Linked DNA regions of Homo sapiens: region 2 is linked to region 1. Evidence: fine-mapped expression QTL. A gene starts in region 1. The other region holds a variant in brackets. All regions are shown on one strand. Distances are from middle to middle.

Region 1 (4,404 bases):
ACCTCAAGCATTTCCTTTGTGTTACAAACAATCCACTTGTACTTTGTTTTTTAAAATGTACAATTGAATTATTATTGACTGTACTTCCGGAAAGGTGTCCCAATCCAGACCCCAAGAGAAGGTTTTTGGATTTCATACAAGAAAGAATTGAAAGCAAATCCATAAAGTGAAGCAAGTTTATAAAGAAAGCAAAGGAAAAAAAAAATGGCTATTCCATAGGCAGAGCAACGGCTTGAGCTGCTGGCCTAAGGATACCTATAGTTATTTCTTGATTACAGCTAAACAAGGGGTGGATTATTCACAAGTTTTCCAAGGAAAGGTGTAGGCAATTCCCAGGGCTGAGAGTTCCTCCCCATTTTAGACCCATATAAGGTAACTTCCAGACGTTGCCATGGCATCTGTACACTGTCATGGCACTGGTGGGGGTGTCTTTTAACATGATAATGAATTATAATTAGCATATAATGAGCAGTGAAGACGACCAGAGGTCACTGTATTCATCATCTTGGTTTCTGGTGGGTTTTGGTTGGCTTCACTACTGCAACCTGTTTTATCGGCAAGGTCTTTATGACTTGTTTTTCCTGCCTGTGGACCTTCTATCTCACTCTGTGACTAACCTCCTGGGAATGCAGCCCAGTAGGTTTCAGCCTTATTTTACCCAGCCCCTATTCAAGATGGAGTTGCTCTAGTTCAAACGCCTCTGACAACTAGTCACCCTGCTGTGCTATCAAATACTTGATATTATTCATTCTTTCTAACTGGAATAATATTTTTTAAATAGTAAAGAGTGAGATACATGAACTCCAAATATCTGAGACAGGTCACAATCAACTCAGAAAGTTTATTTAGCCAAAGTTAAGAACTTGCATCCATGACATGGCACAGATCCTGACAACATGCGCCCAAGGTGGCTGGGGCACAGCTTGGTTTTACACATTTTAGGGAGACATGGGGCAGCAATCAATATATGTAAGATAAACATTGGTCTGATCTGGAAAAGCGGGGCAACTCCAAGTGGGGAGGAAGTTCCAAGTCATAGGTAGATAACAGACAGTTGCATTCTCTTATGAGCCTCTCCAAATGAGGCAATCAGACATGCATTTATCTCAGTGAGCAGAGGGGTGACTTTGAATAGAATGGGAGGCAGGATTCCCTAAGCAGTTCCCAGTATGACTTTTCCCTTTAGCTTAGTGATTTGGGGGTCCCATGATTTATTTTCAATTCATAAGATATAAAAAAGATATAAAAAAGAAAGGTACACCTGAGTAAATATCTACTCAACAGGGAAGCAGGATACATGTTCTCTTTGCTTTCCCTGTTTCCTTGATAGCCATGCACCTTATGTTTATATTCCTCATTATTTGATGAAGTTAATCATTGCAATAAGAGAAATACGAAAGACTCTAGAACTCTAGACACGAAAGCAATTATACAGCCTTTATGACACGCAAATTTATTCACTCTGTAAAAAAAAAGTAATTACTTTCGGTAGGGTCTCCCATGTATCTTCCAAAAGGCAGACTGCTCTGGGTGCATGTAAAAATTAACACGATACCCTATACAAAAGGGAATGCTCAGAGTTAACAGCTAGAGAAGAGAGGCGCCAATCTTAGACACAGGCTTATTCCTCCGCACCCTCCCCCAAAACAAATGGAGGACAGAAGAAAAAAGAAAAGTAGTTAATACAACTATTACTCTACGGAAATATTAGGGGTAGCGCAAACAAAGTTCTGACACTAAACTTTACTGAGCCCTGCATCCTGCCCACGACCCCCCCAGAAACACCTACGCACCACTCTCCTAGCCGCCGCAGCCCCGCCAGTCTCGCCGGGAGGAACCCCCAGCGCCGCGGTACAACCACGGCACTTCCGCCCGCCCCCCGCGCCTCGGGCGCAAGCGTTTGGTGTGTCTGCGTCGGGGGCGGAGCCTCTTGTCCCTCTGCGCGGCCCGTTCCGCCTCTCTTCTCCCACCGCCTGTCGGCTGACGTGTCTGCAGTTCCTCCGCGTCTACTGCGAGTCAGGCCGTGATGGCGGACGCCTGGGAAGAGATTAGGCGGTTGGCGGCCGACTTCCAGCGGGCGCAGTTCGCCGAGGCCACGCAGAGGTGCCCGACCCTCCCTCTCCTTTGTGGAGCCCAAATTAGGCCGTGGGCGGACACGCCTGTATCTGGGACTTTAGACCCGCGGCCCTGCATCCCGGGTCTTCTCGCTGCTTGTCACCATTCTCTCCTCCTCCCTCTGTCCCGAGCCTGGATCGCAGTTCCAAGTCCAAGGCTCGGCGGGAAAGTCCTCAGCCTAGGACGCCCTGGAGCCCCCCAGCCCAGCTGCAGCGAAATGCTGGCGCGCCCCGCCCCACCATGGACGGGGCCGGTGATTTCGAGCTGCCTTTATTGAGCATTTCTTTGACCCTCCCTCACCCACCAACCACCAAATCACTGTGACATCTTGGCTATTATACACTTCCTGATCTAGAATGAGCTCGAAAGGAGAGGCTAACCCCCGCCCCCAGTACAGTACTTGGCAAATAGTATGTTGATCCTTAAAACTTCTTGCCCTTTTATCTCTCGTAACAGACCTAGGGCTAGACCCCTGACCCCATCTGTTATTCAGGGCACTGACATTTTCTACAAGCCCACTAACCTTTGGAGGATGTGTCCAGAGGAGCCTAACTCTGCTTTTTAAAAATAACGCTAATAGAAGCCTTTCTATTCTTTGACTACTTCCTACCTGCGATGTTTTATTCCTTTTGAGCCGGAAGACAGCAATCCCCTTATGCTGTATTTTCTACCACTGATAGCAAACTCGTAACTGCATGGGTAACTAACGTGGGTAAAAGTTATGGTTTCACTAGGCCACATCCCCTGCCTGCTTGCAGACCATGTGTGTAAGTGAGGCAATTATGCACTTAATTTAAAAGAAAATTCTGATTAAACTGGAAATTAGGGCATTTTTTGTTTTGTTTTGTTTTGTTTTTTCTTTTTTCCTACCTAAATAAATGTCTTCAATTTTCCCTTCAGATTTGAAGATTGGAAGCAGGCCTGTAAGAGACAACAGACTTGAAATTTGTGATGGGATGATGTGTACCAATTAAATAAATGATTTAAGCATATGTAAACCTACTTACTCTGAAAGGTTTTTTTTTAACTTATTGAATCAGTTAGTGAAAAATACAGATATTGTGATGTAGAAGTTAGTGACTAAACAAACTTTTTAAAAGCCTGTTTTCATACATTGTATTAATTTTATTGAGCGCCAATGTCTCAAGTGGACTTTTGAAACAACTTTTTTTCTTTCCCTCAGGTTGTCCGAGCGGAACTGCATTGAGATTGTTAATAAATTGATTGCTCAGAAACAGCTAGAAGTAGTTCATACACTCGATGGAAAGGAATATATTACTCCAGCCCAAATTAGTAAAGAAATGAGAGATGAGCTACATGTCCGAGGTGGTAGGTAATTCTTTAGTGTTTTTTTTTTTCTTGGATTTTTGGAAGGGGCAAAACAAACAAACAAAACCCGTAAACATGTAATTGCATACTAAATTATAGATTGTAAGATATCGTTTTCAATTGTTAATTTGATAATCAGGCTTAATATTTTTACTGGGTTCATGCAAACATGGTCATATAATTTAAATGAACTCAAATGTTGTCACTTAAAATATTTTATCATTTTGAGTTATGTGTACTATACATGAATTAATTGTTTCTTTTTACAATTCATTAATTTATTGCATGACTCAGGGAAGGGTATTCAGCTGCCTTTTATTAGGTGGTAATTGTGAAGGGGGACAGTATCTTACAGGATTATAGATTTTTGAAAATCAAGGCTGTATTTCTTTTTAAGGCTTACTTGTACTTACAAATTAGGTAACTCAATCCAGTGTGGTGCTACACCAATCATATTGTATGAAATGCTGTTAAAAACACGCACAAAGTTGGTTTCCTTTGTCTTCTTAAAATTTGAACAGACTACCAAGCATATTTGAATACTATTTGATTAAAATAGAAGCAATTATGAAAGCCTCTCTTCATATTATCAGAGTGTAACATTGGTCTTTGTCTTTTTTTATTTATCTATTTTCCTTCATAGTACCTTTAAAATATGAGCTATAATTTGAATTACTTAACAGATTTTCTTATGCTGATATGTAGAAGCCTACCTTTTAGTATCAAATAATTGAAAAAAAGTTCATCTTAATTTAGTTGTCAATATCTCTTTGATCACAGTAGATAAATTCTGAATTGTGAAGGGAAATGAATACCCTTCATAGATAGAGCCAATTTGTGTGCCAGTTGGTGCTCATAATTGGCCTGATGTTATTTAAAAAAAAAAAAAAAATTGAAAGTAAGTTATTGCTTATGGCTTCAGCCATGAAGACTTAGCCATCAGCTAATGGTGTGTATTTG
Region 2 (4,404 bases), 38 kb after region 1:
TGTGCAGGGAAACGCCCCTTTTTAAAACCATCAGATCTCCTGAGACTCATTCACTATCACAGGAACAGCACAGAAAAGACCTGCCCCCACATTTCAATCACCTCCCACCAGGTTCCTCCCATGACACATGGGAAATATGGGAGTTACAATTCAAGATGAGATTTGGGTGGAGGCACAGCCAAACCATTTCACAGAAACAAATGGGATTTTTTCTATCAAGAAGTAACTGATGTGAGTTGGGAGGGAGTAAGAGGATGGAAGATTTACTTTCTTTCACTAAGACCAATGAAGAATTTCCCCCAATACATGGGAGATGTAATAAATGCACACACAAAACTCCCCTGGGATGTACATTTTCCACACAAATCTGGGAGCACTGTTCAAGTGGCTATTTAAATGACCTGCAAATTCACACAAGTTGCTCTATCTTGAGGACCCTACTAAGCGTACAACAGAATAAATAGATCCAGGAGAGGCTTCTTTCAAACCTTCTAAGAATGAAACTGACTTTCAGGCTTTCAGAAAAACAATTTGTATTACACTTACATCATAAAAAAGAAGGAATAACCACTGTAAACATGTATTCAATGTTTATAAGTTCCCAGTGTTGTATTATTTGTTTTATCAAACTTGCCCCTAGTTGCATCTCTATTTCTCTGAAGTGATTAGTAGTAAGACAATCTGGGTGTTTGTTTTAAGGAGCAGGAAAGACAGGATTACATTGATGGTGAAATGGAGGAAAGGGAGAACATGGTGAATTTATGGACTTGGCCTAATTTACTCGATCGTGTATGACAGCTAAATACTAGGAAGGCACATATCAACTTTAAAGGTATGTTTTACTTTCAAAGAAATAACAAGTCAATAATTACAGTTAAATATAGTGTCTTGGTAAAAGTACACAGAGGGTGTTGTGACAAGAAATGAAATTTAGACTGTGTTGCACAATGGGGAGGCTGGAAATAACACCTGAACCAAGAGTCCAGAGAGAAAAAAAGAAGGATTAGCCTTGGTGAAAATGAGAGAAGGGAAGGAGAGCATATTAAGGCAGAGAAAAGGAGGTACAGAAGTACTATGACGCTAATTAGAATGAAATAATGAGATGTGGGGAGCCAAGAAGTCTGAGAAATATAATAACTGATCTGGGGAAGTAGTGTAAGATAAAGTAGAGAGAATAGGGGGGTTTTGAAATGCCTTAAACACTAAGCTACAAAGTTCAACCACTATCTCAAAAACATGGAAGCCTTTAAAAGATTCAACTAACCAGGGAAATTAAGTAATTACATTTGTCTTCTAAAAAAATTACATTCTGGAAAGCAATTTGGCAATTTACCAAAATTCTTTAAAATGTACATATTATTCGTGAAATTAATGTCTTCCTTTTCTGAGAATTAAAATGACTAAAAAATGTATACGAGTCTTTTTTCCCAGCCTCTAGTAGAGAGGAACATGGACACCTTCTCTTGCACAGAAACAGGCCAATCTTGGCTCTGAAATAGTCTATTCAGATACTAGTCTGCCAAAGAAAAACTGCGATCTGACTAGTCAACCTAAGACAAAAGTCTCAAAGGTTGTCTCATGTTTTGTGTTACTCAATGTAAAGAAGTAAAAGTGCTTTGTCAAACTGTTTTACTACTGAGCCTGTCTTTACTCATCTAAAATGCAGTCCTTAACCTAATTCTATCATACAGACTTCAGAGTTGGGTAAGAACTTGAAGACTTGACACATAGAACATATTGTTGTTTAAATACAACCTAATAAATGTAAATGTACTTAAAGTCAATGTTCTAGATTTTTCTCCTTTCCTCTTTTCAGTCTTAATCTCAGTCCTGTGATTTGTATGTTTTAAATGCTGAGTGTATCTTTTGGTGTTGAAAAAAGAGA[G/GA]AAAAAAAAGGAGAGCTATTCCATTATGTATTTTATTACATAGCAACTATTTGTTATAGCCACTTTAAAAATATTTTATTGGCTTGTCCATCAGTGAATGACTGGATAAAGAAAATGTGGCACATCTACACCATGGAATACTATGCAGCCATAAAAAAGGATGAGTTTGTGTCCTTTGCAGGGACATGGATGAAGCTGGAAACCATCATTCTCAGCAAAGTAACACAAGAAGAGAAAACCAAACACCACATGTTCTTACTGATAAATGGGAGTTGAACAATGAGAACACATGGACACAGGGAGGGGAACACCACGCACCGGGGCCTGTTGTAGGGTGAGGGGCTGGGGGAGGGATAGTATTAGGAGAAATATCTAATGTAAATGATGAGTTGATGGGTGCAGCAAACCAACATGGCACATGTATACATATGTAACAAACCTGTATGTTGTGCACATGTACCCCAGAACTTAAAGTATAATAATAAAATAAAAAATATTTTATTGGCTTGGAAAATTACAGTATATTAAGTGAAAACAAGGATACAGATTTATAATGGGGTTCAGGATGCACTACGCTAAAATATGGCACCTTGGTGTTTGAGAAAACTCCAGAAGCAGGAAGATCATTCCCACCTTCCCTTTACCCTTCTCTCCCGAGGCAGGTCATAAGACCCTCATTCAAGAGACCTCCCTATGCCTGGAAGAAAGGAACACAAAGAAGAGTCTAAACAAACAGGCCTTGCTAAGTTCCCCCGAGTGTATAATCATTAGACTATATCCCCTTTGTCCAGTCATACTTTTCCATGACTATCCACTCTTCATCAAATCTAAGCATAAAAATACACACGTTTATCTCTTGCTTTGAGTCTTCATTTCTGAAAGGCTCCCATGTCCCATAAAAACTTACATTAAATAATTTGTATACTTTTATTAATTTGCCTTTTTTTATAGGGGCCTCAACCATAAACCTAGTAATGGAAAAGAAAAATATCTCGCACTTTCTACAAGTATATACAATGTGGTCTTGGTTTTCTAACTAAATATACTGCATAACTATGTTATGCAATATATTTACAAAAAATTTTAGCATTTCTCTGTATCATTAATATATGAATGATACAAAGCCTAAAGAGGTACACAAAGATTTGGTCTGGGCTGTCTTGGATTGCAAATCATTTTACATTTTACATTTTCTGTATATGTTTTCCAGTTTCTGTTCCAGATTATCTGCAAGAAGCATGTATTTTATAATTTAACAAACTTATTTAAAAATAATATTTTTCTATAGAGAAGGATAGAAAGGGATCAGGCTGAGGCAGATGCCAGTTATTTTATGGCTGACAGAATAATCTGAGTGAGACATGTGAGACATGGAATGCAGGGGTGAGGACAAATTTGAGAAAGATCATTTAACAAACTAGAACCTACAGAAGGTGGACAATGATGGGGATGGTGGAGGATAAATGAGGAAAGGGAATACTCTAACATAAGGGGTGGATGATTGTGCCATTCCCTGAAGTAGGAAATACAGCAAACTAACAAGTTTGGAATGGGGAGAAGACAATAAGGATATTTGGGACTGTTGAGTTTGAGATGGCTGGGGACCCCTAGACAAGGTTTTCTAATAGATAGCGGGATACAGGTCTGGAACCTTGAAGAGTGGTATCAGATGAAAGTACACATTTGGGAGTCATGTTGTATAAAATTGTTCATTGTTTTGATGAAGAACGTGATGGAAAGTCTGCAGAGAAGCATACTGAACAGAAGATAAAGCTCTAGGGAAGAGTGAGGTGAATAGAGAGAAAGTGAGGGTGCTAAGAGCAAACAGAAAATCAGAAGGGTGTAACATAGCAAAACCAAGGGAAGATAATTTCAGAAAGAAATAGACATGGCCAGAGATGAGAATTTTTCGGTAAGACTGAAGACCATACTCTTTGGGTTGCTAATCAAGGTTGTATATGATCTTAATGAAGCTTTTTTGGAGCGGTTCAAGTGAAAGACAGATTGCAATAAGTTGGGAGGGAGAAGAAGGCTCAGAATGTAGTAGGTTTGGAATGACTTGGTGGATGTAGATTACCCTCTCAGGAAGCATGGGAGCAAATAAAGAGGGTGATGGTCCCAGGCACTTTTACATCTCAAGGACTGCTTTCCTTGCCCATAAAACAAGGAAAATACAGGCAGTACCTGTTTAGCAATGGTGTCCTAAGGATTAAAATCTATTACTAATGAAATATACTTGTGTCCTTTTGCTGAATCCAAATTTATTGTTGTTAGTCGCCATATGTTCATTTTCATAATGTCTTAATCATTAAAGTCAAGTGAATAACAAAACATACAGTTAACTGGCTCTGCATTTCTCTAGCTCAAGTTCTTTGACTGTATATACCCGAGTTTGACCTTAGAAGATATTAACATTTCATTCCTTTAGCAGTTAGAACAAGGACAGTTTAAGTTTGGTCTGGGATTAAGGCAGAATTTCTTCTCTCATCCTGCCTTCCAAACTGAAGAAATGGCCTCAA

Evidence for each region. PIP is the estimated chance that this variant, and not a neighbour inherited with it, causes the effect.
Region 2: its variant is the best candidate, but not a certain one, in a credible set for the expression of UFL1 in whole blood (INTERVAL, PIP 0.57).

The regions. Positions count from the first base shown.
Region 1 is chr6:96,519,848-96,524,251 of GRCh38, forward strand. UFL1 (UFM1 specific ligase 1) reads left to right here and starts at 1,959. Exons shown (of 19, transcript NM_015323.5): 1 at 1,959-2,103; 2 at 3,299-3,444. The coding sequence starts at 2,027. It overlaps UFL1-AS1 (UFL1 antisense RNA 1), which reads right to left and starts at 1,867. Exons shown (of 4, transcript XR_007059687.1): 1 at 1-1,867. RefSeq lists enhancers at 1-675, 676-1,547, 1,548-2,419, 1,564-1,753, 2,420-3,291.
Region 2 is chr6:96,557,923-96,562,326 of GRCh38, forward strand. No RefSeq gene overlaps it. Among named protein-coding and RNA genes, the nearest start is that of FHL5, 3.0 kb to the right of the region's middle. The variant G/GA (reference allele first, on the strand shown) is at 1,886.